Linked DNA regions of Homo sapiens: all the other regions are linked to region 1. Evidence: fine-mapped expression QTL. A gene starts in region 1. Each other region holds a variant in brackets. All regions are shown on one strand. Distances are between the middles of the regions. Region 1 holds the start of RCSD1 (RCSD domain containing 1). Region 2 holds the start of TRP-CGG1-1 (tRNA-Pro (anticodon CGG) 1-1). Region 3 has its middle 28 kb from the start of RCSD1. Region 4 overlaps RCSD1 (RCSD domain containing 1).

Evidence for each region. PIP is the estimated chance that this variant, and not a neighbour inherited with it, causes the effect.
Region 2: its variant is fine-mapped to the expression of RCSD1 in whole blood (TOPMed, PIP above 0.99).
Region 3: its variant is fine-mapped to the expression of RCSD1 in whole blood (TOPMed, PIP above 0.99).
Region 4: its variant is fine-mapped to the expression of RCSD1 in macrophages (Nedelec 2016, PIP 0.95).

Annotation. Positions count from the first base shown.
Region 1 is chr1:167,626,520-167,633,957 of GRCh38, forward strand. It overlaps RCSD1 (RCSD domain containing 1), which reads left to right and starts at 3,713. Exons shown (of 7, transcript NM_052862.4): 1 at 3,713-3,910. The coding sequence starts at 3,905. RefSeq lists enhancers at 1,542-1,601, 1,682-1,851, 1,862-1,911, 4,430-4,499 and silencers at 3,570-3,649, 3,670-3,889.
Region 2 is chr1:167,709,807-167,717,244 of GRCh38, forward strand. TRP-CGG1-1 (tRNA-Pro (anticodon CGG) 1-1) reads left to right here and starts at 4,919; the gene lies at 4,919-4,990. TRP-AGG2-1 (tRNA-Pro (anticodon AGG) 2-1) reads right to left here and starts at 5,753; the gene lies at 5,682-5,753. RefSeq lists enhancers at 3,437-4,275, 3,770-3,929 and silencers at 4,400-4,639, 4,940-5,039. The variant C/T (reference allele first, on the strand shown) is at 3,907.
Region 3 is chr1:167,598,762-167,606,199 of GRCh38, forward strand. No RefSeq gene overlaps it. Among named protein-coding and RNA genes, the nearest start is that of RCSD1, 28 kb to the right of the region's middle. RefSeq lists an enhancer at 2,856-3,005. The variant C/A (reference allele first, on the strand shown) is at 2,892.
Region 4 is chr1:167,662,227-167,669,664 of GRCh38, forward strand. The region is part of intron 1 of RCSD1 (RCSD domain containing 1); the gene reads left to right. Among named protein-coding and RNA genes, the nearest start is that of RCSD1, 36 kb to the left of the region's middle. RefSeq lists enhancers at 814-913, 7,433-7,438. The variant T/C (reference allele first, on the strand shown) is at 3,724.

The DNA of each region.
Region 1 (7,438 bases):
AGGTAGTATTTGTAGTCGTAAAAGAATATTTGCTTCTTGCTCTTCATTTTTAAAATAGATGATCAGCAGTACAGTGTGTCCACTATAAACAGCTGATTGATTAGACCTCTTTGCAATTCTGCTTGAAAGCTAATTAAGTTACTACTTATTGTGGCCTTTCATGATCTTTTCTCCCACTGGGTCCTTATTTCCATGGGAGACCCATCTCTGAAAGACTCTGTCTCTGACTTAAAGGGAAAGATCCTAATTTGCTTCACTTGTTCATTCATTCACGCACATATTCGCCAAATTATTTTTATTTTACTTTATTTTTTTAGAGACAAGGTCTTGTTCTGTTGCCAAGGATAGAGTGCTCACTGCAGCCTTGAACTCCTGGGCTCAAACCATCCTCCACCTCCCAAAGCACTGGGATTACAGGTGTGAGCTACCACCTGGCCTCATTCACTAAATATTTATTGAGGGCCTTCTATATGCCTGGCTCCTCCCCATACCTCCCCATACGCCCCTCCCTTGGCTGAGCTGTATCTCTGGTGTTCTTGTTTTTTTATTTTTTGTTTTTTTTTTTTTTTTTAGATGGAGTCTCACTCTGTTGCCCAGGCTGGAGTGCAGCTGCACGATCTCGGCTCACTGCAACCTCTGCCTTGTGGGTTCAAGCAATTCACTTGCCTGAGCCTCCTAAGTAGCTGGGATTACAGGCACATGCCACCACGCCCAGCTAATTTTTGTATTTTTAGTAGAGACGGGGTTTTGCCATGTTGGCCAGGCTGGTCTCAAACTCCTGACCTCGTGATCCGCCTGCCTCGGCCTCCCAAAGTGCTGGGATTATAGGCGTGAGCTACTGCACCTGGCCTTTTTTTTTTTTTTTGTCGGAGTCTTGGCTCTGTCACCCAGGCTGGAGTGCAGTGGCAAGAATTTGGCTCACTGCAACCTCTGCCCCCCAGGTTCAAGCAATTCTTCTGCCTCAGCCTCCCGCGTAGCTGAGATTACAGGCACACGCCACCATGCCCAGCTAATTTTTGTATTTTTTTAGTAGAGATGGGGTTTCACTATGTTGGCCAGGCTGGTCCCTAACTCCTGACCTTGTGATCCACCTGCCTCACCTCCCAAAGTTCTGGGATTACAGGCATGAGCCCAGCCTGGTGTTTTTATTGTTAGTTACCTGATGACCTCTACTTATTGCGTGGCTGGTTCTGGCTATCAGGATATATGAAGGGGAAGGCCCAGGGTAGACTGAAGGAAGTGGTTCCGTGTTAGCCAGCCAGACCTCCAGAGAGAGAGGGGAACCAACTCCTCGGAAAGTCACTTTCCCTTCCCCTTGGGCTGTTGTTTCCTCCCAGCCCCCAGAGCAGCCAGTTACAATCCCAGATAACCCAGCAAACCTGGGTGTTTATCAGCAGAGTTACTGCTATTCTGGCTCCTGGAGATCTTCTGTAGGGACAGAAGAAGAAGATAAGGGGAGTACACACACCACACCTACTCATGGCTGCCTAAACACAGCTCGGGGCTACCTCTTGGTCCCTCCCTCCCCGTTTTCCACCCCCTCCCTCAGGAGAAGTCCCAGTCTGGGGCCCAAATAGCTCTGGAGCAGCATTAAACTCTGCACTGGGGACCCAGGAGCATGGTGGAGGCCAAGCTTGTTTGCTTTGTGGTCATCTGTTCTCAGCCAAGAGAGGCCTAAGCAGGGCGTGGGGAGCAGCTGCAAGTCACCTTGGGTGACTGATGTTATCTAGGCCTAACGGTTTCCTCTGGGTAAGCACTTCCGCCCTCCTGTTTGTGAAGCCAGAAACCTGTGCTGGGGCAGCCCCATTCTGAGCACAAAGGAGGACTAGGTAGAGGGAGAAAGGAAAAGGCCCTGTGGAGCAGAGTTAGAAGACCTGATAGTAGACTATGCAGTCATCACTACGTCCTGCACCTTTAAAAAGAAAGGAAAGAAGCACGAGCAAAAGTGTGCCTTGCAGGTTACCAGTAAATACCCTTCCTTACTGCCGACTCTGCTCTCGAGTCTTCACCTGAGCAGCCATGTGGCTGGACTGGGAGGGGCCTCACTATTAATTCCTGGGAGTGAGGGCTCTTTTCACTGGGTCCCCGAGTGCCTGTCTCTAAATAAAAGAAATATCAGGCTCTTATTCATCTGAAGCTTGTACATGGGGCTAAGCATGATAAAAACAGCCACTTTTTGCAGAGTGCCTACTACATTGTATAGGTGAGGAAAATGAGAATCAGAGCAGTTAAGTGACTTGTCTAAAAAATACAACTAGAAAGTAGCAGAGCTGGAATTCAGCCCTCAATCTGTCTGTTCCTAAAACCAGGCGTCTTCCTCTATGCTTAGCTAAGCTAAAGAACTAGAAGCCACTCTGGCATTAGGGCTGCCAGTGTTTTAGAAAGTTGGGCCTTAGAAAGTTCTAGGACAGGAAGGAGGCCATATTTCTAAGACTGGTACCCAAAGCAGCAATCTAAGTGCCTGAAAGTGCAAAGATGGTGCCGGGATAACCAGAATCAGGGTAGTCTTTGTAGCAGGAGCAGACTCTCAGCCTTTTTTCTCTACTGTTTCTCCACATGTCTCTTCACAGTGCTCACCATCACCTGTCCCATTGCCCACCTCTGATGGGGCTCCCCTCCCCTGGTTGAGCTGGGGTTGGGCGGGTGAGAATGCTGTGGGATAACCCAGAGGCGTCATATACCCAGCCAATACCCTGGCACTCACAGGTCTCTCAAGGCATTTTCCTGTTTCTCTCTGCCGAAGGGTCTGAAGGGGGCCGGGATCCGGGTAGCAGGGAGTGACCCTGGTGCAGATTCCAGTCCCCGAATCCCTCCCATGCGGTCTCTGCTGCCCAGCCGGGATGGCCCTAAAGGAAGGTTGCTATGCTGGGCCCTATGGGAATCAGATGTTGAGCATCTTGCCCTTTGCTATATTTAACAGGAATGGAGACGAGGCCCTTTAGCAAGCAGCTTGTGGGAGCCAAAATTCCCACAAAACCGAATGCATCAGTCAAAGCAAGGTTTGAAGAAAAGATTTACCACTTCAGGGAGCTTGGAAAACTTTGCGTGGATTCCTGATTTTCCTCCTCCTCCTCCTCCTTCTACTCGTATACAGAAGATAGATGGATAGATGGATAGATAGTGGTTTCCTGGAAGGTGGAGAGGAAAAGAGGTGAGAAGGGAAAGGTGGTCCCGTCGGCGCCACGCTGAGCTCTGAAGCCTCGGTCAGAAGGGCTCCTCTTTTGGTAGAACACAAACGCCTTCCACCAGGGAGGGTCCTCGAACTCCACCCAAGAACTGCAGGGAAACCAGGTATGACAGTAATGCAATTTTAAAAAGAGGGAGAGGAAGAAGGAAAGCAGGAAGGATGGACACAAAAGAAGGAAATCGAAAAGAGAGGAAACAAAAAGAATTAAAGGACCACTCTAATTCTTGAAGGGACAGGAAAAAGAAAGAAGGCGCATTAAGGGAGGGAGACGTTGAGAAGGACTGAGACCGTGGCAAAGCCCAGGGTCCTGAGAAACTTCGCGAGACAGAGGGGCCCGGTGGCTGCCCATCCCCATGTTTGGGCACATGGAGTCGTGGCTCCCGCTCTTGAGTCCTGCCCTGGGAGGGACAGTATCTGTTTAGATTTGCGTCTAAATTTAAACCCTGATCGTCGGCCTCCCTCCCCGCTCCCCACCCTCCCCTCCCCTCCCCTTCCTCCCTCCCTCCCTCCTCCTCCTTCCTCGTTCTCTCGCGCAGGGCCCCCGCGGCCGGGGCAGTCCCGCAGCCGAGCGCAGCCGGGCGCGCGCCACCGCCCACTCGCCCTGTGCCCGCCGCAGCCCGAAACTGGCCACGGCCGGGAGCGGAGGGGACAGCGGGGATCGTGAGCTCCGGCCCGGGCGAGCGGGTGCGTCTGCCGCAGAGTCGGCACCTGAAGGACATGGAGGTAAAGGACCCCGGAGGGAGACGCGGGGCTGAGCGGTGAGCGGTGTATCGGGCGCCCCTTCCCCGGGCGGCTGCCCCTGCCCTGAGCATGGAGCACGCGGCTCATCGCTGCTGCCAACTAGAAGGGCAAATGCCTGCTGTTCCGACGCCTCCTTGACCAACTCCGAAGGATCGTCCCTGGTCCCACCTAGGACACCCGGGTTGGGAGGCTGGGGTTGGTAAGGAAAGATCTCAGAGGGAGAGAAAAGGGCTTTCCTAGAGGCCCGGGTATTTTGGCTAGGAACTTAAATGCTAAAAAAAAAAAAAAAAAAAAAAAAAAAAAAAAGTTAGGTGCAGCCAAGGTTTGTAAATGGGTAAACGTGTCAGCAAAAACTGCAAGAAGGCAGAAGCCCTTCAATCTGAAGAGATGGGTATTGAAAGAGAAACAGAACTGGCAACACGAGGCCAGCACGTCTTCGTGGGTCTGTGGGCTTCCCTTTTCGCTTTCGGAGTGGCATTTTAGAGAGTCCAGTTGTCTTCTTGCTTCTGAAGTCCTTCCTGTGTCTGTCGCATCTTCTTCCATAACTTTCTGAAAGCTCCCCTTACTGGTCAGTCGAATGACATTATTTCTGATAAAACTTAAGACTCCCTTGGACACCCTTGCCTCTGAAGCTGTGTGTATGGAGGTATGCTGGCCACATCTGCAGGCTTTGCCAGAGGGAGGCCCCGCACTTCTCTGCCTGCTGAGAGGAGGTCCGGGGACTTTCCTTGTTCTGTTCCAACCTCAGCAGAGGAGTGGTTGGGTGTATTCCCCACATCCCTCTCTTCTGCACATCTTGAGGCTTCCCTGTGTTTCCTCCTTGAAAATGAGACCTGATATGTAGCCCTAAGTCAATCTTAGTAGGACCTGGGGCTTTTGAGAAGATGCAAATGTTATATAGTTTTAAAGGTGATTCCCACTCATATTCAAAAGGAAACATGTGTTGCTCACTAGACTGTGGTCAGTGCAATCAGGATTCACAGTTAACTCCGCTATCTCTTCCCCGCTCCAGGCTCTGTGCCTGGGCCCTGGTGGTCTTTTTATTTTTTTCTTTTGAGACAGGGTCTCATTCTGTTACCCAGGCTGGAGTGCAGTGGCACAATCTCAGCTCACTGCAACCTCTGCCTCCCAGGCTCAAAGGATCCTCCCACCTCAGCCTCCCAAGTGGCTGGGACTACCAGTGTGTACCACCATGCCTGGCTAGTTTTAAAATTTTTTGTAGAGACAAGTTCTCACTATATTACCCATGCTGGTCTTGAACTCCTGGGCTCAAGTGATCCTCTAAGCCTTGGCCTCCCAAAGTGCTGGATTTGCAGGCATGAGCCACACCACTCCTGGCCCTGGTTGTGTTTTCTAAGCTAGACTCTGTGCTTGCCGGCAAAGCTTCATGACTTCTCTAAAGGGGCAATAAGTTTGTCCTTTAGAGAAGTCAGGGAGCTATATTCAGGCATCCAGCCCAGCCAGTTGTCTTCAAGGAACAGGGAATCACCTTCAAGGAGACTTTATAGACTGCAAGAACCACTGGAGTCTAATATGGACCCTCCACAGAAACATTTGCAAGGCCAGGAAGCTCTGGCAGATTAGGGCTGGCGGTGAGGCACGCACACAGCGAAGCTCAGCAGGTGGTGTGCACACATCCACCCAAAGATCACACAAACACAAAACAACAGGGTTCTCTCTGAGCTGGCCACTGCTTCAGGGCAGAGGAGGGAAATGGCCCAGGCAACACCCAGCTTCTTGGGTTGGGTGAAGTCTCCTTAAGAAATTGTTTTAGAAGTGGCTTCCCTCTTCTGGAAGTGTACAAACTGCCTTAGGCCCCAGGCTGCAGATTCACTATGATGTATGGCCTGTCTAACCTCTTGAAGAAAAGGATTGGAGATAAGAGAAAAGCAACTCTTAGACTTCAAGCAGGTTGCTGCTGGAGGGCCAAATGCAAGTGTCAACTTTGTTCTAGGAAAACAAGGAGGGTCTCCTTCCACAGAGGCAGTTTCTCCCCCCTCAGATGAGGAAGGAATAGTGTATGGCAGAGGCCCTGAAACTATCAGCTGAGCAACTTCCTGTGTGGCTTGGGGGGTGGAGGGGATTGCAGTAAAAGAGAAGGCCCTCCCTTATTGAGATGTGTAGTAACTTATGCAGGATTCCACCAAGATACCAAAATCACTCCCGTGCTAGGGTTTGGGAGGGACGCAGGGAGGGAATAGCTCAGCCAGCCAGAAGCCTGACAAATCACCCTGCGTCTCACATCCAGTAGGTCACTAAGCCTAGTCCATCAATTTGCTGGTTGGACAGTGGCTGCTTTTGAAGTTTCTTTGTCCAAATGCCTGGAAAACAAAAAACAACAAAAATGAAACAAACAAACAAAAAAACAACATGCAACTGCTAGTGAAGAAAGTAAAGAGGAAATCTAGGGGCCAGGGAAGTGACCATTCTTAGCCAGGAAGTAAACTTTTCATGGTGAAGCATGATATGCAGGAGTTGGATTTGGGGGTTTCTGAAAATCTCAGAGTAAAACCCTCTTTTGAGAGGTGAAACTCAGTTTTGGGACATGAAAGGGCTACTGTATCTGGAAAGAAATTAAGTTATATTACTTCTCAGTACTAGGAATCCAAACCAGACCAAAGAGGGTTACTCAATATTCATTCTCTAAAGCTCACGTATTATTGGAAGTCTTTGAGAGATCTTTTTTTAAAGTCACTGTTACCATTATCAACAACATCAATCTTCATCCCTCATAAAGCCCTGTGGAATAAACAAAGTATAGATGCCATCTGATCCCTGCCTTTTAAAAGCTCACAACCCAATAAAGGGACTATATCCTGTCACATATATAATCTTCAAATGCATAAATGCCAGTTGAATACTGCTGCAGATCATGAGTTCTGCAGGAGTTCAGACTAGATTAGGTTCAGAAGAAGCCTTGGAAGAAAGATGTGGGTAAGGTGGAGAAGGTATAAGGGATGGGCACAGGGAGAACATGCCAGCTTTGTCCAGCTGGCTGGGAAGGAAGGTAGGAAAGCAGTAACAGAAAAAAATGAAAGTAATAAGATAAATCCAAGGTCACTGAGTATAGTAGATGCCCAGCTAAGTGGGTGAGTGGGAGCTGAAATCCAAGTCACTTGGAGGAAAAGGTTACTTTTTGTTCATACAAAATCTCCTTGCCTAGTTGAGCCTCAAACGGGTGGCTTTTTCTAATTCATGCAGAGGCCATCTGCAACTCTTGAAGGCCAGAGTTGTATGGCCCTGGATTCTGCTCCATGGACAGTAGGAAACTCTGAGAGGTGTTGAGGCAGCTGGCAGCAGTGATGTAGCCGGGATGATACAGCAAAAATGCCACTTCATGGAGTGAGCAAGGGAACCAGGTGAGAAAGCATCTTTTCCAGTACAGGTATATTCTGACTTCAGGATACAATAAGAATGGAGAAGATGGAAAAGAGTAAAGACCATGCGCTGGAAGGGAAGTCAGAAATCACCAAGCTGCCCAGAAGAGTGAAGTTCTCTATGGTGCCAGGG
Region 2 (7,438 bases), 83 kb after region 1:
TTTGGGAGGCCAAGGTGGGTGGATCACCTGAGGTCAGGAGTTCGAGACCAGCCTGGCCAACACGGTGAAACCCCGTCTCTACTAAAAATACAAAAATTAGCTGAGCAGGGTGCCGCACACCTGTAATCCCAGCTACTCCGGGGGCTGAGGCAGGAGAATCGCTTGAACCTAGGAGGCGGAGGTTGCAGTGAGCCGAGATTGTGCCATTGCACTCCAGCCTGGGCGACAGAGTGAGACTGTGTCTCTAAAAAAAAAAAAAAAGAAAAGAAAGAAATTAGAGAAAGTTACTCTAACTTGGGTAAACCCCTAAGTCAGTTACCACACTTACCAGGTGCTTCTGTTTTAAAGAATGAGTGGACTGAATTGCACTTTAACCAGCATGCAGAAACAAAATTCTAGAATAATTATATGATTGGTACTCAAAGGATGGATATTGCCAAGACACAGATACTCATTCCCCCCCAAGAAAATAATAGCCTCTTCAAACAATAGGACCTCCAATACTAGTCACTGCTGTTTGACTATCTAAGGAAGCCACACATGCTAGACGGTGCCAGGCACATCCCCATCACAGTTGCACCTGGCCTCTCAGGAGTGATACAAACAGGCTTATTGACCACCTCTGGAAGCAGAAGGGATGGAGAAGCACAAAAGGGCCTGTTTTACATTGCTTCTAATTCTGTGTCTCCATTCTACCAAGAACAAAGAAATGCAGTTTCAAGACCCCTGTTTTCTTTGTGGCTTAAAAACGTTAATTATCCTAATTTTTTTCTCATTGTAAAAGCAATGCATCTTTATTTTAGAAAATTGGTGGAGGGGAAGAAAAAATTTTAAGAAGCAAACAAAAAAGTATTTTTAAGTCCACTATCTAGGGATAACTAATGTTACTATTTTATGGATATTCTTCTTTTTTTTTAGTGCATTATATACGTTTTGTTTTAATTCTTGGTTGGTGCAAAATTGGGATTTTACTATATCTAATTTTCTCTTTCTTTTTTGTAACATACTCTCATGAGCATGTCTTCATAAAGAATCACAAGTTTGATCATGAAAATGATACACTTTTGTGTTAACCAGAAACATCTGACCAGAACTAGGTCTGTATAAAACAGAGGGTAATAAGATGAACAGGTAATAAGACTCCTTGGTGAAAGTGAAGGTGTCCCAGCGGAGAGCAGTTCTTTCACAATCTACATCTGAGATTCATATTACCCCTCTGACCTCATGTACTCTCAGAACTTAAAAACAAGCAAAACCTTTTGAATGAAAAATGAAGAGGCTGAGGCAATTCCAAGAATTCATTAATAGTGATTCAATGAAGGGACTGCAAAATTCAGAGGGACACATGATCTAAACCTCATAAAAAGGATCACTGAGGGAAACCAAATAGAAATATGTTTAGTAAAATGTAGCTGAAGCTTTTGCTGGATATTGGACTAGAATCTGGAAAAAGACACAAATTTTCAGTCAGATCCAAGTTTCTGTTTAAATTGGAGGAAGGCTTGCTGTGCGTGACACAAGCCTACCAAGACAACTGCCATGGCCTTCTAGTCCATTAGTACATAACCCCACAAGCAGCAAACAAGGCTCAGCATATGAGCATGAGGCCAGTCTTGTGTGCCAAGTTAGCGAGAAGGTTCCTTGGAGTGGTGAACCCATGTAATTAATTGTATTCTTATTCCTAAGGACTGATCTTGCTAGACAGAGCCAAGTCTGCACCACCTAAGCCTAAATTGGGTAAGAATTCAGTAGCCAGCAAATCTTAGTTATTAAATAGTCACTGAATCCCCATTACAAGTGATTTAAATGCCCATTCACAGTTTCAATAATGTCATCCCAGAGTTATTCTAATCATCTCCTAATGGATTTACTAGTTTTCTAATTTCTTTTACTCCCTTTTATGCATCTGACCCCAAGTCAAAATTGTTATCATCAACAATACTTATTATCAGCATTCTCAAAAGCTTTGATGCCATCAAAACCCTTAAATGAAATTAAAAGATCAAATCATGGGCTTTAAAGTTATCTGAGAGCCACTGTTCCTCTTCTTCCACGTTTCCATCTTACTTGTTAACCAGCCAAGCCAAGCTCCTTAGCACAGAATTGCATCAAGAGTTATAAAAGTGGCCAAGGATCAGTGTTTGTCTCTGTGACCAGGCCAACTCTGGGAGTGTGTCCTAAGGAAATAATCCAAAGTACATGGAAAGGGGCAGGGTGCAATGGCTCACGCCTGTAATCCCAGCACTTTGGAGGCCGAAGTGGACAGATCACTTGAGCCCAGGAGTTGGGAGACCAGCCTGGGCAACATAGTGAAACTCCATCTCTACAAAAAAATACAAAAATATTAGCCAGGTGTGGGTGAACTAGCTGGGTGTAGGTGGCACATGCCTGTCCCAGCTACCTGGGAGGCTGAGGTAGGAGGATCACTTGAGCCCAGGAGGTTGAGGCTGCAGTGAGCCATGATGGCACCACTGCACTCCAGCCTGAGTGACAGAGTGAGACCCTGTCTCAAAAAAAAAAAAAAAAAAAAGTATATACACAAAATTTCAACAAAATGTTTGACACCACTTACTTATACAGTGGAAGAATAATTAAGAAAAGGATGTGCCATTATCTTGATGGGATACTATGAAGCCATTACAAACTACTTAACGGAGTGGAAAAGCAGACTTGGGAACTTATTTTTATTTTTTATCCCTCTCCCCAGGCTTGGGAAATTAAAACAACAACGAACAAAAACAAACAAAAAACCCTTGAGAGTGTATACTCAGCAAAGATAGAAGTGTCCACCTCTATCATGTTCCACACACATGGTGAGTGGCAGGAATATGTCAAAGCTCCCAGGAGTGGGATACAGCTCAGGCAAGGCAGAGAGAGCCCCAGCGAAGGCACGCATACTCTCAAAGGGAAGGAGGGCGACGCTTAGCTGCTCAGGACTTGCCCTAATGAAAACTCTCTCCCCAACCTTCCCCACCCTTGACCCATCCTCAAACTACCAAACAGTGTGTTAAAAGCAATATCTAGCCGGGCGCGGTGGCTCAACCCAACACTTTGGGAGGCCGAGAAAGGCGGATCACCTGAGATCGGGAGTTCGAGACCAGCCTGACCAACATGGAGAAACCCGTCTCTACTAAAAATACAAAATTAGCCAGGCGTGGTGGTGCATGCCTGTAATCCCAGCTACTCGGGAGGCTGAGGCAGAAGAATCACTTCAACCTGGGAGGCAGAGGTTGCGGTGAGCCGAGATCGCGCCATTGCACTCCAGCCTGGGCAACAAGAGCGACACTTCGTCTCAAAATAAAAAAGAAAAGAAAAGAAATTAAACAATATCCAGTTCTCACACCTTAGGTAAGTAGGAGGAAGAAAAGTGGTCTCAGACAAGGACAGGGTGTCAATAGTTTTACGCACTTCCAAACAAATAGAAGGCGTAGACAGGGCTGCCCACCTTAGACCTGGCCCCTGCACCAGCCAGCGACAGGGCTCTCTACATCGCCAGAGTGGGCTAAAGAAAGGTTTTTCAGTGCTCGCTGTTTGTTCTGAGGTGTCTTCACTGCATTTCCCGTTACACTCCCCACCGGCATGAACCCTGGTCCTGACCTCCTATCGCTAAGTGTCGTCCCAAAAGCTCACTGACATTAAAAGGAAGAGAGGAAGAGAGAGAGAAAAGAGCAGAGAAGCGGGTGCACGTGGGAAGCTCTCGGTTAGCAGGTGACAGGGCAAAAGCACCACCAGGACCTGGAAGAACGTCTGACCAGGCTACAGAGCAATGGATTTCTCTTACGCTGAACTGAAAGTAGCCTAAGAATGCAAGAGTGTTTTAGAAATAAGGGACGTCTGCAACTTGGCCACAGACTGCAAGGAGCCGGAGTGCAGAGTGGCGGGCTGGGGTCGTGAAGTGGGGGGAAG[C/T]GGTGAGAGCAGTCCGGAAAGCAGGCAAGACGAGCTAGACCCCAGGCCGGGAAACCACACCGGCGGGAGACCCCGCACTCGGACTCCCGCTCCTCTGAGCAGAAGAGCAGTAGGGCAGGCCCACATTTTCTGCTGGACGGGAGGGAGAAGACCCGGCCCACTGCCACTGCCCTCTCTTCTCCAAGCTACCGAGGTACCAATCTTCTCCCCAACTCTCCAGTCCCTTTCACACGCCCCAGCCCCCAGTTGTCCCACCCTCCAGGACCTCGGGAGTTCCTAGACCAGCGCCACCGCCAGCTCCTAGCCCAGTGGATTTATGTGAGCGACTTAACATCTCTGAGCCTCAGTTTCCTCATCTGCAAATGGAGATACAATGGCACCTAGGGGATTATTACGAATATCAGGTGAGTTCAATACAAGCAAAGGGCTTAAAAGAGTGCACTATCCCCAAATGAAGGTTCGGGGAGTTAACTTAATATTCACTCCTATGGGATTTCGTCTCCCACCACCCCTTTCTTAGCCAGGATTCGGGTATTCCCTTCCCTCGCTCGGACTCCCCGTCTTCATTCACCGACCCACTCGCGGAGCGAGCAGGCCCAGCTCTGCGTGCACTGACGGGCTGGGCGCGGGCGGGGCGCCGCCGGGACTTGGCACCGGGCTGCGTCCTGAGGCGCCCTGCCCCGCCCCGCACTTTCCTCAGCCCGGGCTCCCGGGCGCCCGCCAACACTGCGAGTGGAACAGCCGGGGCGAGCCCGTAAGCCGGAAGGCGGCTTCCGGGAGCGCGTGCGAACGTGGAGGCCACGCCGGCGATGGGGGGTTGGAACGGCCGGACCAGGCAAAAGCCGGTCCCTCCCTGCTCCTCCACGCTGTGGGGCAGTAAGCGCTCCGGACCCGAGGCTTAGGGAATCAGAGGACACGCAGTATAAGGGTCGCAGGTCGTGGTTGCTCGGAACACGAGGTGAGAGGCGGAACAAGGCTGAAGGGAAGCTCTGGGAGTGCCCTTGCCGAGAGCGGCTCGTTGGTCTAGGGGTATGATTCTCGCTTCGGGTGCGAGAGGTCCCGGGTTCAAATCCCGGACGAGCCCAGGCTTTTACCCACCCCACACCCGAAATTTAAAAACAGATTTTTTCCCCCTAATTCCCCACATATTCCATTCAGAAACTTAAATGAAAACATACTGGTCCCATGAGCTCGAATGTTGATCCCCTTTGTTTTTTGAAGCGAGGGACCATGTGAGCTCAATTAATACAACATATGGTTACTGTACGCCCAAAGGCAACGCATTCAAATTGCTTTGTACCATGTAAAACACACACTCTTGAAAAACAGACGCCTAGTGCGGAATCCTGTGCACGCCTTTAACTCCTCCAAACGAGCAGGGGGCGTCATGGATTAGCATGTCCCGGGGTTCGGGAATCAGCATTTCCGAGGAAAGGGGCGCTCAGGAGATATCCCCACCCCCGATGAGGGGCACTGTCGTGGATGAGTTTAAACCACGCCATAGGCAGCCAAGAACTGAGCTCCCGATGGCCCTGTACACGCGCTGCACCCAGGAATAGACAGCTAGGGACAATGTTTTCATAGTACAATACTACATTACTAGCAAACTTTTTACATTTTCAAAATGAGGCCTTTTAATGGTATTTCAATGTAGAGTGTGCTCTAAGTTTCCAAAAATCTCAATTTTGTGTTTTACTCTGACCAACCTGTATTTATTACGTTTAGTAATCTATCCCCAAAAAAACTCACCTTTAAGTGATTCTTACTCCAAAACAGGGCTCGTCCGGGATTTGAACCCGGGACCTCTCGCACCCTAAGCGAGAATCATACCCCTAGACCAACGAGCCGACACAAACTCCACCTTACTGTCATCAGAAAGGAACACATAGCTATTTAGTCCTGCGCCCTCAAGTGGTTGCTCGCATGTTAGGATTCGATCTTTGGGTTGTGTTTGCTTTCTATAGATACCGCGTTTTCAATTTTCTTTCTTTTCTGTTTTGCTCTTTGAAAATCAGTAACACAGAAGACAGCAAAATTGTCACTATCAGTATAATATCGACCTCTTATTTCGAAAATTGTAATTGTATTTCTATTCATGGCTAATAAATGGCTATTAGTGTGGGACAATGTCACTGTGGCAGATTCCAGACTCTCTCCGTTACTGAGTGAGTTCTGGATGTTTCATTCGTTCTTTTTCGCACTTTTCTATAATGTTAAAATCTCGGTTTCTTGCCGATATTTTTTATTGTAATATTCAAAGCCCTACCTATCTAGCCTTGTGAATTCCCATCTCTGTTTTTACTCGAAGTGTTCTCTTCAGCTGGAAAACCTGTTTGCTTTTGGACAAATCCCAAACTCTAACCTTCCCAGAAAAAGATCCTTTAACATATCAAAACCAATAGTATGTGGTAAATAACTGGGTTTCAGTCTTATCTCCTCCAACTGTAACTTCTTAGAGCGCAAGACACCTACACCAACACGAAATTCTACTGTAGAATTGGCAACCAATTGTGTGATTGCTGTTCGATTGTCCCAATATCTTTAATTAGATATAGTAAGCATGGCTTCTTAACTATATTTTAAATTCTTTTTCCTTTCTTTCTTTTTTTTTTTTTTTTTTTGAGACGTTGTCTCGCTTCGCTCTTTCGCCAGGCTGGAGAGAAGTGGTGTGATCTCGGCTCACTGCAACCTCCGCCCCCTCCGCCCTCCAGGTTCAAGCGATTCTCCGCCTCCCGAGTAGCTGGGATTACAGGCACCTGCCACCATGCCCAGCTAATTTTTGTATTTTTAGTAGAGGCGGGTTTCACCATGTTGGCCAGGCTGGTCTCCAACTCCTGACCTCAGTTGATCCACCCTCCTCGGCCTCCCAAAGTACAAGCGTGAGCCACTGCGCCCGGCCTAATTTCTTTTTTTTTTTTTTTTTTTTTTTTTTTTTTTTTTGAGACAGAGTCTAGCTCTGTCACCCAGGCTGGAGTGCAGTGGCGCGATCTCGGCTCACTGCAAGCTCCGCCTCCTGGGTTCATGCCATTCTCCTGCCTCAGCCACCCCAGTAGCTGGGACTACAGGCGCCCGCCACCACGCCTGGCTAATTTTTTTTGTATTTTAATAGAGTCGGGGTTTCACCGTGTTAGCTAAGATGGTCTCGATCTCCTGACCTCGTGATCCACCTGCCTCGGCCTGCCAAAGTGCTGGGATTACCACCGTGCCTGGCCCTAAATTCTTAAATACTTAGCATTGAGGCTTATCATAAGGAAGCTGGTGCTCAATGAATGATTCTGAATGATTACAATTTGTCTCAAATTCCTTAACAATACGAATTTTAGGTGTTTTTTGTTTGATACAGGGTCTCACTCTGTCGCCCGGGCTGGAGTGCAGTGGCATGATCATGGCTCACTGCATTTTAGTACTTTTGTTGCCGGAAAAAGGGGTCTTCACCGAACCTGGAGAGAGGGTTCTTGGATCTCGTGCAGGAAAGAATTCAGGGTGAAAGAAGCAAGTTTATTGGAAACTACTCTGTTACAGAGCAGGATGT
Region 3 (7,438 bases), 28 kb before region 1:
GAGGCAAAATGCCACCAGTCTGTTTGCTAAGACATACAAGAGTCACCTTTGCTCCAGTTCCCAAAAAGTTCCTCATCTCCATCTGAGGCCACCTCAGCCTGGATTTTATTTTTCATATTGCTATCAGTATTTTGGGCAAAGCCATTCAACAAGTCTCCAGGAAGTTTCAAGCCTTCCCACATTTTCCTGGCTTCTTCTGAGCCCTCCAAACTGTTTCAACCTCTGCCTGTTACCCAGTTCCAAAGTTGCTTCCACATTTTCCACATTTGCTGAGTATCTTTTCAGCAACGCCCCACTCTACTGGTACCAATTTACTGTATTAGTCCATTTTCATGCTGCTGATGAAGACATACCCAAAACTAGGAAGAAAAAGAGGTTTAATGGATTTACAGTTCCACATGGCTGGGGAGGCCTCAGAATCATGGCAGAGGGCAAAAGTCGCCTTTTACATGGCGGCAGCAAGAGAGAAGAAGAAGAAGCAAAAGCAGAAACCCCTAATAAACCCATCAGATCTTGTGAAACTTATTCACTATCACGAGAATAGCATGAGAAAGACCAGCCCCCATGATTCAATTACCTCCTCCTGGTTCCCTCCCACAACATGTAGGAATTCTGGGAGATAGAATTCAAGTTGAGATTTGGGTGGGGACACAGCCAAACCGTATCAATGCCCAAGTCCCTTATATAAAATGGCATCGGCCGGGCACGGTGGCTCACGCCTGTAATCCCAGCACTTTGGGAGGCCGAGACGGGCGGATCACGAGGTCAGGAGATCGAGACCATCCTGGCTAACACGGTGAAACCCCGTCTCTACTAAAAATACAAAAATTAGCCGGGCATGGTGGCGTGTGCCTGTAGTCCCAGCTACACGGGAGGCTGAGGCAGGAGAATGGCGTGAACCCGGGAGGCGGAGCTTGCAGTGAGTCGAGATCGCGCCACTGCACTCCAGCCTGTGCGACAGAGCGAAACTCCGTCTCAAAAAAAAAAAAAAAAAAAAATGGCATCGTATTTGCATATAATGTACACATATCCTCCCAAATACTTTAAATCACATCTGGACTACCTAATGCAATGCTTACACATCACTTCATTTGCCTGGATTCAATGTAGTACTCAGTGCATGCAAATTCAAGTTTTGCTTTTTGAAACTTTGTGGAATTTTTTTCTCACACAATTTTGATCCGCAGTTGGTTGAATCCACAGATGCACAATTCATAGAATACCAACTATTCCAAGATTACTTCCCTTTAGTTTCTCCTGCAGGTCCTGGTACTTAGTAATTTGCCTCTGGGTGGAGTTCTGCAGATTTAGCAATTTTTCATCATTTCTTCCCAGCATGCTTCAAAGACATAGAAAGCAAAAGCGAAAACAAACAAAAGAAGCAAAAACAAAAGTGTTTCATAGTTTTAAGATTGTTTAAAATGTGCCTTTCTCCAGAGTTCAAAGGTGCGTTGTGCTCCTGACACATGAGGGCACTATTTCTGTAGTTTGTAATATTCATGGTACAGAAAGAATATTCATGTGGGAAGCTAGGTCTGCAGAACCGTGGCTAGGAACATGCAGAGAAAAATGGTTTGCTATGTGTTCTAGGCTCGCCAGGTTTTCCAAGTGTGACATGTCCTAATGTACCCTATGAACAATGCCAGGACTCTCGGGGCTGCAACCTGGCCTTCTGACCACAGGGTTGCTAGCTGGAACTTCCTTGAAATGAGGATGACCTCATCTCATTTAGCTCTGCAGGGATAGAACTAGTGTATTAAAACACCAGCTTTGGAGACTGACTGAGAATGAAAGATGAATGACCTAGAGCAAGCTGCTTAACCTTTTCTTGCTCTAATGATGGAGGTATTGCTGAGCACAGTGGCTCACGCCTGTAATCCCAGCACTTTGAGAGGCCAAGGTGGGCAGACTGCTTGAGCTCAGGAGTTGAGACCAACCTGGGTAACATGGTGAAACACCATCTCTACAAAAAAATATAAAAATTAGCTGGGCATGGTGGCACATACCTGTACTCCCAGCTACTTGGGAGGCTGAGACGGGAGGGTCAACTGAGCCTGGGAGGTCAAGGCTGCAGTGAGCTATGACTGCATTACTGTACTCTAGTCTGGGTGACAGAGTAAAGCCCTGTCTCAAAAAAGAAAAGTAAATAAATAAAAATGGAGGTATTGCCTCACAGATCTGTGAGGAAGATTAAGTGGGGGTAATCTATCTAAAGCGCCTGACACTTAGTTGGAACTCAATAAGGAGACACTAATAGTGTTTGTTACTTAGCAGTGCTGATGTATAGTGATGCTCAGGACAAGTTTAAGCAAGCGAATGAATGAATAGGATGTGTAGAATCACACAGATTTTACCAAACTGAAGAAAACTAACACTTTCGAGCTTTTTTAGTGTTGAATCACTTCAGGGCAAAGTGATCAGCCAGTGTGCGGTAAGCCCTCTAAACTTCTGTTAGCCTTCTTGATTCCTTAACTGAACCGGTGAGAATGCTGAGGTCAGAGGAAAAAAGTGATGTGCCCCAGGCTTCAGAGCTGTTTAGGGGATCGGGATGAGACCCAAGGTCTCCTGAGGCCTAGCACAAAGCTTAACCCATAGGGACCTGCCTGGCTGGGCTGGGAGTTGAGGGGTTAACAGACTGATCCTAGAAAACAAATAGGCTTTTGGCTTGGTTTACCTGTGCTTGCTAGGCATATTGTTACCCAGCAGTGACCCCGTCTGAGTGTGGAAAGAGCTGAACCACAAGAGCATCCCAGCTTGCCCCAGGGCAGCCACCCAGGGTTGACCTCTAATCTGAAGACATCTTTGGGGAGAGCTCTCACACACTTCCCCAAATATACTTCTATGTGCTTCTGTGTGTGTCACAAGAGGCCTTGGGTCACCTCCTTCCTTTG[C/A]GCAATGAGATCAAAAGAGCAGTTTCTGCTTCTGCTGTTGCTTCTTTCCTGTTACCACTTTCTTGGACTTTTCGGGGACTGTTGAATTCTTAGGACACAGCCCTGCTCTGGCCCTGGTGGGCTTCCTCTATTAGAAGGCTCCCCAGGGCTTCCTGACTGGAGCAGATGGCCCTCCCTTTCCCGGGTGAAACAGGCTGACCTGGGCAGGCCGGCCCCTCTGCCTTTGATCTGCAGGTGGGAGGCAATAAAAGGCACTTTCCACGTGCCTGCTATAACCATATTTTCCAAATTCAAAAGCAGGACTCAGGAGTCTCTCTGAGCCTACTCTGGTTTGAGAGGCTGCCTGTAAAAATAAATAAATTAAATAACTAAGAGCAGGACTTTACCCACCCCATACATATGTCCTTCTAAGGACTTTGAGACAAAAGATGGGAAATTGGACCATGCCAGGAAACCCAGGATGGCTGGCTGCCATACACAGGCCTCATGGAAAATTCTCTCCTCTGGGGGATGTCTGCCGGAAGTGCCATCTGCTTTTGCCACAGATTCATGGCTGTGAGTGTGGCTCAGGCAATAACCACAGTAGACCCTTGGTTAACTCCTGCTGTGGTTCCGCCAGGAAGCCTGGCATGAACAGTTGTGTCCAGGAAATCTTTTCCCTGATTTCACTAGCTTGTTTTATCTGCCTGACAACCTTACTCCCAGGAAGGCTTTGCAAGGCACTTTCACCTTCAGCTCTTGGAATGAATAAATACAGCTATGATTTTTTAAAAAATATCAGTCCAACAATTTCGGTATGTCCAATAAATATCATAATGACCTGTTTCACGTATCAGGAACTGTGCTGTGCACTGTCAGAGATAAAATGGTGAAAAATGCCATTCTCTTTAATCCTTTTGAGGCCCTGCTGGCATGAAATCGTGTTAGTGCTCAAGGGAAGGTACAATGGCTGAACACATAGTTTCCACCTTTTCACACTCAACTACAGTACAGATTAATCACGGTGTCATAGGAGGGAGCCAGACTTGGCATCAGATCCTGGATTCAAATCTTGCCACCTTCACTTGATGACTGTCTGGTACTGAACAAGGTACTCTTTCAACCTCTTACTCCTCATCTACCAAGAAGGAGGTCATAATTCCTCCTGGCAGTGAGGTTGGGTGAGGAATAAATGCTGGCACATTGTTTATGAGCCTAAGGCATAATAGATGCTGAGAAAAGGTTTATTTCCTTCTTTCCTTAAGGAGCTTAGAGGCTAATAGATAACAACTGGTCCTGCTGTAACTAACACACACTGCTGACTGTCATACAATCTCAACTAGGGGTGTGAAAGCATGCCGAGGTGGCCTTTTGAGGTTTGTTGCATATGCTTGGGGAAAAACGCTCAGATTAGCATTGCCGGGGGCCGTTTCCTGGGCTCCTTCCTGCAGGGCCTGTTTCGGGGCCCTCCACCCAAATCCACTCCGGGAGGAGTAAGTTTCGGGGCCTTTATTACCCACTTGTGATTAGGGATCAGAAGTGGCCAGTCGGGGTGGGTTGGCAGTGACTTGCACCCAAGGGAAGGATGGGAGCCCACAAGAGTGGCAGGGCTCTGGGGAGAGAGGCAGGCTAACCAGTAGAAGTGAATAGGATGTGCTAAAGTATTCCCTTGAGAGTGGAAATACCATACAGAAGACTTGGATATGTGGTTTTCACCCTAAACCAAGCTGAGGAACCAGCACCAAATGCTTAACAAACACACAAACAAAAACAAAAACCCCCCTCTGGGTGGCCCAATGCTGTAGCACTTCACTTTTCATGGGACCTTGCAGCTTACATGCAGCATTCAAAGACATGAGTTTATTTGGGCCTTCCAATATCCGAGCTTGGTAGGTAGGCTAATTTCATCACTTCATTGTACAGAGGAAAAATCTGAGATTCAGAGAAGTTACACAACTTGCCAAGATCACATCTAAGTAGCAGAGTTGTGGCTCTAAGCCACATAATCCAGACTTTTTTTTTTTTTTTTTTTTTTTTGAGATGAAGTCTCGCTCTGTCGCCCAGGCTTTAGTGCAGTGGTACAATCTCAGCTCACTGCAAGCTCCGCCTCCCGGGTTCAAGCAATTCTCCCATCTCAGCCTCCCAAGTAGCTGGGATTACAGGCACCTGCCATCATGCCCGGCTAATTTTTGTAGTTTTAGTAGAGACAAGGTTTCACCATGTTGGCCAGGCTGGTCTTGAACTCCTGACCTCAGGTGATCCGCCTGCCTTGGCCTCCCAAAGTGCTGGGATTACAGGTATGAGCCACCACGCCTGGCCCAGACTTCTTAAAGAAAACATAAATGGCCTATCAATTCATGTAAGAGTGTTCCAAAATTATTATAGTAGTGGCTCCTCTATGTTCTCCCCAATTTTTTTCTCTTTTCTATAGCAACAGAAGTTTTTTTACTGTGTACATGGAAACTCAGATAAAGACTCTATTTCCCAACTTCCCTTGCAGCTACAATTGTTCATGTCATTGTTTGGGACAACATGAGATATAAGTAGAGGTGATATGTGCAATCCTCAAGGCCAGACTCTTAAAAAGAAGTTGCATGTTCTCCTCCATCTTGATGGTAGGGATGCAAGATGTGATGATAGGAGCTGAGCAAGACATTTTGTGGTGTACCAGCTCTGAACCACTCACCTGGAATTTTATGTGAGAGAGATAAACTTAAGTTTAAGCCATTATATTTTGGGTTTATTTGTTACAGAAGCCTAACATTTACTCTAACTAACATGGGTATATGGATCTGATAATAGTCCTTAGGAAAGAAGACTGTGGAACAATCATGAAAAAAGAATAGGAGTTAAAGCCTGCAGGACATGTTACCAGTATGTTCTGCCCTTGCAGAGTCTCCTGAATTCTGTTCCCTGTGTTGGGCCTCATCCTTAGGCACACAGAGGGTGTCCCCTCAAATTCTTATTTCATCAAAATTGAGCCAACAATTGCCCTTTCTCTCAAATTGATTTCAGGTGGCATGACTCAAAGAGCACCAGACTTAAGGTCAGAAGATCTGAAGTCTAATTCCGGCTCGGTTTTTTCTGCCGTTCACAGTTATTTAATCTCTCTGAGCTTAGCTTTCCTCATCTATAAACTGAAGATGATGGTATCTGCCTCCAGGATTATTGTGACAATTGGCTTAGCTCAATGCTTGGCACAAAACAGACACTTCATACTCTCCCTCCTTCCCAGCCCCTCTGCCTTGCCGCATGCAGAACAGCCATGTGTCACATGAGTACAGTAAAGACCCCCATCGTCTCTTGTCTCACCGGCCCACCAAGGAAAAACACACTGGGAAATGTATCCAAGGACTTATCGGCCCTAAGGCCACAGGGCTTAGGCTTTGGTGAGCAGAGAGTGGAGGCCTAGAGTAATGTTGGCAGAATCCAAGAGTCTTTTTAAAAGGAGGGGCGGATCAGTGAAACCCGGAGCAAAAGAGCCTTGCAGCATTTGGGAAACACAACAGTGGGCTCCTTTATGTGGATGAAGTGCTGAGATCATGATCAGAGCCTCTGGGCTCTTGGCATGACCTTTCGGGTCAGAGGTACCTGACAAGACTGGCTGGTTGGTTCAAGTTCAGGGTGTCACAGTTCTGGTGGCTCCAGTCTCCACTGAGAAACCTGGGAAAATCTTTCTGCTGGACAGCCCAGGGGCTGACATCAACCTGAACTGCTACCAAGTATCAGGAGAAGCTTTCTTAACAAGTCAGGAACAATGAGACATTGTGCAGGCAGGTAGATCACAGTCTGTGTCCAAATCCCACAAGAAGAATTCTTAAGTATCTGCTTTCAGCCCCTGGAGACAGGAGTTTTTCATCTGGGGTCCTAAACTCCTCAACCACAACCTCTGGCCACGTTCTTGGCCCTCACCGGTCCCCATGTATCTCCTCTCTGGTAGTGGGACCCCAAATACATATATGGCTCCACTACCAGGGGGCCTGCAGGATTCCTGGAGGCTGAACTCCAATTCCCACTTTTCCATCCTTATCAGAAGCCTGACTGTCCTGTCCCTCTCATCCTAATCTAATCCAGTCAAGTTCAGGGTTTGCCAGCACACCAGGGCCTTCTCCTCTCCAACCAGACAGTGATTGAGGCTCCGGGATGGTAGAGTATGAGTCAGATCAGACCAGCGCCAGCACAGCTCTCCTTCCTCTATTGGTATTTCCCAGAGTGTACGTGCAAGTTTTAGATAACATAGGAATAAAAATTTATTGTAGCCCTGTGTTTATTGTAATAGGTATAAAAAATCAGTAGCTCATTGGAGTGGTGATTTCATGGATATCATTACTTAGTGTAATGCAAAATTTAAAAAGTAAATTAATTTAATATAGATCTCAAACTTACTGAAAAAAGTCATGGTATGGATGGCCCATGACACCAAAAAAAAAATGGTGCTGGGAAAATGCTCTTCACTATGCTGATTCTCTGGTCAAAAATGAGAAATATGATTTTTCAATTGACCCAAATACTCCTTCCAGCTGATAAATACAGTCTCTTTTGAGGAAGATTATTTACCTGTGAAGTCA
Region 4 (7,438 bases), 36 kb after region 1:
AAGAAAACAAAATCTTCATTCCATCTTTTATGACTTTTCTGATGAAACCAAAGTGAAGGTTATTTTTTCCCTAGCTGGGTAGCAGCAATCCCCTGGGGTGCTGGGGGATTGGGGTGTGCAGGCAGCACACTCGTGTGTGTATGTGGTATATGCAGGCTGTCTTGATCTTGCTGTCTCTCTCTTTCTCTCTTTCTCTTTCTGCCTCCTCATTTCTTTTTTTCTTCTCCCCGTTCACAATTATACTTCTTCTGGCCTTGTGTCCCTTGATCATCTTGGTCACTGTTCTTCATTACCAGTTTTTCATCCACTTTCCTCTATAATTGCTTGTGGACACCTCCTAGGCTATTTGAGCCATGCCATCTGCTTTCCAGAAACTCTCCTTTTCGAAAGAACGGCTGGCCTCAGCTTGCTAATTTGGAATAAAAGGACCGTATCATATTGGGCATTTTATTCCTGATTTAAGAAAGGCAGGGAGTTCCACTCCTAAAATCTTCTTAGGAAGGAAGAGGAGGAGGAGGGATGGGATTCTTTACTTGGAAGAGCTGAGTGTGAAGATGTTGGGGCTGTAGCAAGCGCTGGGTTTGCTTGGCATCCCTGAGTTCCCTGGCCGAGTTTCTTGCGATTCTGCCTGAACTTATTTAGGTTATCCATTATCCACCTCTATTTTCATCTACATAAGAAAGATAACCCAAGTTTTCCCAATTTTCTTCTTACGTTATGTTAAAAATGAAGAGCAAGCCAGCAGCGTGGGTCTTAGGAAGCGTCCTTTGCAAGCCCCTCATCTCACAGATGAAGCAGAAGGTCATCAGGGCCAGTGAGTTCACGCCGCTCCTCTGACTGCTGGGTCAGTGGCCTCGCCTGCCTCCCAGCTGCTCAGCTCTTGAAATGACTCATCTGGATCTTCCCTTCTAACTTTGCAGGACAGGGCTTGTCTGCTCAGAGACTTAACCCCGTAGTCCCACTCCCTAGACCATTGTGTTCCCTGGAGAACTACTCAGGCCATTCACCCACAGAAGCCTTTGAGAGCCCCTGCCCTCACTTGAGAAATTATCCCCATCAGGCCTAGACCTGCAGGGGCAGGCACAGCCCTCAAACTGTGGCCACACCCCTGAGGCCAGCTGCACTAGCCAGCTGCACTGGACTTGCCCTTTATGGCCCCTTCATACCATACGCCTGGGTAACGGCAAGACCCTCCCCAACCTGCAGAAGCCACAAGCAGTCTTCCCTCTGAAGGCTGATCCTGACCCATTACCCTACCCCACAGCCTGGAGACATCCAAATGACCCCAGCACACAAATGGCCCTTCTCTGAGAGAGTGTCCTCATGGCTGGAGGCCAGAATCACACTCCAGCTTGCTCTTGTGGTTCCAAAGACTCCCATTTGTAAATTCCTCCGACATGAAGATGCAATGCCAGCCCATCTGCTCTGCCAACCTATTCTGCAAGATGGGAATGAAAATGACTTGGCAACAGCAGATCCCTGCCACCCCCTTAGAATTCTTCAGGGCCAAACTGGCAACAGCCTGGTATCTCTACGAAGAGTGCAAGGGAGCCCACATTTTGACTAACACCTACTGTGTGCCAGTTGGTATCTTAGGTGACAACAACAATAGCTAAAATGAGGGGAGAGCTTATTATGTGCCAGGCACTGTGCTGGGGCTTTATATGCAATATCTCATTTGGGCTTTATCACAATTCTAAAAAATAAGTGCTATTATAAATGTTTATTTTACAAGTGGGGAAACTAAGGCTCAATAAGGTCAAGTGTCTTGCCTAAGATCACACATCTAGTAAAAGGCAAGGTCTGGATGTGAACCCAAACTGTCTAATCAAACACCATCTCCTAGTATCCCCATGACCTTGTAGGGGGTGTTATTATCCTCATTTTACAGATGAGAGTCTGAACAGTTAAGTCAATTGCCTAGGATCCCACAACCCGTCAATTACAGAGTGGGATCCAAACCTGGTCTTGCCAAGCTCCAAATTCTGTGCTGTCTCCACTATCTTGCTGCATGAGTCCTGGCAGCTGCCCTGGGCTGGACAGGAGTGGCTGGATGTGGCCTACTCCCAGCAGCTACCAGAGGCTGCCAGCCTCCTGCAGCCACAGCGCATTCCTGCTCACGCCCTGAGGCACACAGAGCTGGCATCCTGAGACCAAGCCAGGTTCCTAGCCCTAGGGCAAATGAAAGACCTCCTGCAGCCTGAGTGCACCTCAACTTTTGTATTTGAACTATCATGAGCACTTTAAAATGTTTTAATCACCTTTTTGAGGTAAAATATATCTACAATAAAATTCACCCCTTTTAAGTGTATACATTGATGAGTGTTGACAAATGTATACAGTCATATAGCCACCACCACGAGATGTAGACCATGATCAAGGTATAGAGCATTTCTGGCTGGCTGTTATGGCTCACGCCTGTAATCCTTGTGCTTTGGGAGGCTGAGGCTGGCAGATCACTTGAGGTCAGGAGTTTGAGACCAGCCTGGCCAACATGGCAAAACCCTGTCTCTACTACAAATACAAAAATTGGCCCAGTGCAGTGGCTCGCGCCTAGAATCCCAGCACTTTGGGAGGCCAAGGCGGGTGGATCAACTGAGGTCAAGAGTTCAAGACCAGCCGGACCAACCTGGAGAAACCTTGTCTCTACTAAAAATACAAATTAGCCAGGCGTGGTGGCGCATGCCTGTAATCCGAGCTACTCAGAAGACTGAGGCACGAGAATCTCTTGAACTCAGGAGGTGAAGGTTGCAGTGAGCCGAGATCGTGCCACTGCACTCCAGCGTGGGTGATGAAGTGAGACTCTGTGTCACCAAAAAAAAAAAAAAAAAGAAGAAGAAGATATAGAGCATTTCTATCACCCCAAAAGACCCTTCACACTCTTTACAGTCAATTCCCTGCCCCCACCACTGGTCCCACGCAATCAGTGATCTTCTTTCTGTTATTATAGTTTTGCCTTTTAAAGAATGTTATGTAAATAGAACCATACGGGAAGTCATTTCTGTCTGACCTCTTTCACTTAACACAATGCTTTTCAGATTCATGCATGTTGCTGTGTGTATCAGTAGTTTGTTCCTTTTTATTGCTGAATAGTATTCCATAATGTACGTATAACACAATTTGTCTGTCTACTTACCCATTGATGGACATTTGAGTTATTTCTAGGTCTCAGATATTAATAATAAAATTTCTTTGAAGATTTGTATACAAGTATTTATGTGAACATAAGCTTTCATTTCTCTTGGGCAAATACAAGTAAGATTGTTGGTAGGTGTAGTGTAGGTGTATGCTTAACTTCACGAGCAGCTACCAAAATATTTTTCAAAGTGACTATACTGTTTCACATTCCCACCAACAATATAGGAGTGATCCAGTTGTTCTGCAGCTTCACCGTCATTTGGTATTGTCAGTTCATTTTAATTTAGCCATTCTTGTGGGTGTGTAGTGGTATCTCTTTACAGTCTTAATTTGTGTTTACCTAATGACTAATGTGCTTATTAGTGATTCATATGTATTTTTTGGTGAAGTGTCTGTTTAAATCCTTTGCCCATTTTTACTATTGTCTCATTATTAATAAATTTGATGAGCACCTTTTTTTTTTTTGAGACAGAGTCTCACTCCGTTGCCCAGTCTGGAGTGCGGTGGCATGATCTCCACTCACTGCAACCTCTGCCTCCCAGGTTCCAGAGATTCTCGTGCCTCAGCCTCCTGAGTAGCTGAGAT[T/C]ACAGGCGTGTGCCACCACACCCGGCTAATTTTTGTATTTTTAGTCGAGACGGGGTTTGGCCATGTTTGCCAGGCTGTTCTCAAACTCCTGGCCTTAAGTGATAGGCCTGCCTCAGCCTCCCAAAGTGCTGGGATTACAGGCGTAAGCCACCATGCCTAGCCAAATGAGCACTTTTTAATCCCAAAACGTAAACTCTCTATGCTTTTCCTGCTGGAGGCAGTGTGGAGTTGTGGTTGGGAGCACAGGCTTTAATAAACCAACTGAGCATGGGTTCCAGATCTCCCATCAGTAGCTCCACAACCCATAATTCAGTTACTTGGGCTCCTGAGTCTCAATTCTCTCATCAGTAAAAAGGAGATAATTATGAATCCATGTCACAGAGGTGTCATGGGGATTCAATGAGATCATCTTAGCACAGTACCTGGCACAATAATCATTCAGTAAATTAGCTGTTTTATTACTGTTGAAAAATACATTATGAAAGCCTACTACTACTCATTCAAAACCAGTTTCTAAAGAGAGACAGTGAGCAGGAAGGAAGTGTAGAGAGAATTCCTGAGTATGCGGATGATGCTAGTTACAGAGGGGACTTGCCACTCCCCACACACAGGTCTGAATTCTCATGGGACCATGACGGAAAGCCCTGGAATGCTTTCCGTCAGCCCTGGGAGGGGACAGTAACTGTGAATCAGCCCAAGGCCCAAAGGGAGCATCCAGAGGAAAGGGTGGGTGGAAGAGAGAGGGCTGGCCATCAGCAAACCTCTGCAGGCTGAACACCCAACAGTCTTCCCTGCCATGCCAGGAGCCTAGCTGCTTTGCTCTGTAAAACCTAATAGAACAAGCTTGTCCAACCCACGGCCCATTGGCCACATGTGGCCAAGGGGGACGGCTTTGAATGTGGCCTAACACAAATTCATAAACTTTCTTTAAACATCATGAGTTTTTTAAGTGTATTTTATGTGTGCCCTAAGACAATTCTTCCACTGTGGCCCAGGGAAACCAAAAGATTGGAGACCCCTGCAATAGAACTTTCAAGTGAAGCAATTCAACTCAGCTGGATGGCTTTTGTTTCTTTTCCCTTTTTGTAGCAGGCTGGTGAGAGGAGATGGAAAAGTTTATTTTAAAAACTCAGCTCCAAGACTCCTTTTGGTCCCATTGTAGCTGAGTAGGCTTCAAGGGAGGGGGCCGCCTCATTGTAGCTGAGTAGGCTTCAAGGGAGGGGGCGCCTATCCCGTACTTTGGATGGAGCCCTCTTGATATACTAGAGACTGTGGAATCCTGCCTTGAGCATCCCTGGGCTGCAGAGGAGCCCTTGGAAGGGGCTTGGAGGCATGGAGCCTCTCCCTTGGTGACTGAAGGCAGATACTGAGACCGGACCAGAGATGTGGACTTCAGAACTGGGGCAGACACCATTCTACTATATTCATAATATATTAATTCTACCTTCTGCATTATAACTTTCTTTTCTTCAAATTTTCTCCTTGCTGAAATGGATCTGAAAATATCAAGCAGCAAACAGATATATTCAACCACTCTAGATAAAGAAACAAATTTTAAGTATTTTTGATGTGTCATGTTCTAGGATAGGTTGGGTTGTTAAAACTGGAGAAGACAGATACCCATGGATAGAGATATGGAATTATAATAGATTTCATAGCTCCAGTTAGAGACAGGAGGCTCAGATTGTTAAGTAATGGCTTGGGCAGGAGAAAGTCTCATTCTTTGCCCTTTGGTTACTATTTTAGGGAGCTTGGACAAGTCACTGAACCTTAATGAAAATATTCAAGCCTGGTATGCTCAGAGCCTCCCTGGATGACAATTTGTTTCCATTTTTGCTTCAAGGTCCTGATCTATATTTATCAATCCCTCACAATGTTGCCCCAGTGGTATTGGTTTACGGAGGCATCATTCATTTATTTGTTCATTCATTTACCGGCATTTACTGAGTACCTACTATGGGCTAGGGGATGGAGCCATGAATAACACATGGTCTGTGTGCTCAGCAATTACAGTAGAAAGAGAAAAACATGAAAAATGTGGGTATTTTAAAAGCTCTCGGGCCAGGTGTGATGGCTCACACCTGTAATCCCGACACTTTAGGAGGCCAAGGCGGATGGATCACCTGAGGTCAGGAGTTCAAAACCAGCCTGGCCAACATAGTGAAACCCCCGTCTCTACTAAAAATTAGCAAATTAGCTGAGTGTGGCACCTGTAATCCCAGCTACTCGGGAGGCTGCGGCAGGAGAATCGCTTGAACCTGGCAGGCGGAGGTTGCAGTAAGCTGAGATTGCACCAATGCACTCCAGCCTGGGCAACAGAGCAAGACTCCGTCTCCAGAAAAAAAAAAAACTCTGTGAGTTCCAGCCACATCTTCTTTCAGTTCCTCAAACACCTCCTGTCTCTCCTCCAGGAGGTTTTTGTGTAAACTCTACTCAAATGCCCTTGGCTACCTCTGGCCACCCTCTGACTAACCCTCCTTACCCCTCAAACCTCACACTTTGCCTGGATCACTTCTACTGACCTCAGTTTAAATGTCACATCTTTGGGTCAGATTTTCTTGTCACCTGCTCTCCTAAAACCCTTTTCCTCTTCAGCATTTATCACCCTAATAAATAATAAGCTGGAGCTAAGATAATAATGGCTATGGAATATATGTCTCCCCTACTAGACTGTAACCTCCATTATGAAAGGACTCTTTTGATTTGGTTCATTCCTAAACCCTGAGCACCAACTGCAGGGCCTGGAATACAGAAATAATGAATGAATGAATATGTCCAAGATGTACTAAAAAAAAAAAAAAAAAGAGGGAGCTGCCAATTCTGCCTGAATGGGGGAAGGTGCATGGTGGGGAAGGGGAGCTTCACAGGGGGTTTTCTGGAAGTGCCCAGGGTGAAACTGTGCTTGAAGGAAGCTCAGATGTCAGTTTTTCAGATTGTGCTGTCTGTATATCTAGGCATTCATAAATACTTTCTAGAACTTTGTGTAGTGTTTTGCAAATGTAGTTAAACAGATTTGTGAATTCAGTAATTTATAAAAACTTAAGCTTGTGTTCTTCTGAATCCCTTTATTTTTCTTCTGCCTCCGAATTAGACACTTCCCCTATGCATTAATTCCAAGTACAGTCAAAGATTAAGTAAGGAAATGATGTGCATGAAAAAAGTTCTGCATGTTTGCTAATAATCTAATGACTGTGACATCTAAACACTGGAAACACCTTGATTTATGGATAATAGGGCTATCTAGAATTTTCAAGGGATCATGGACAAATAATTATAGGCAATTTGATCAAGTGACCATGTAAGACCATTGGTGCAGATACAGACTGATTAAAGTGGAAAAAGTTCTTTTTTCTTCCTAGCTTCCTGCTCTGCCATTACCTTGATAATGTGAGCCAAGGCCTATTGGCCTCCACAGGACAAGCCCTAGGCTGTAGTCTGGGCTTGCTTGAACCTGCCTGACCTGTCACTTCAAGGCCAGCCCTGATCCTCTGAGAATGGGCCTGGGAACCATCAGAAATTATGTCTATTTGCAGCAGGCAGGGCCTCTTTTGGTCTCCAGCATAGCCCTTGCCCCATCTGCTCTTTTCACTTTACATGGAGTACTAGGCAAAGTGGCTTCCTCTTTGGGTTTTGTTACATACTTTAACCAAGACTGTGCATGCAAATGGCCTGGCATGTACTCGGTGCTCAGGATGTTGCAGCTACTGAATTATTA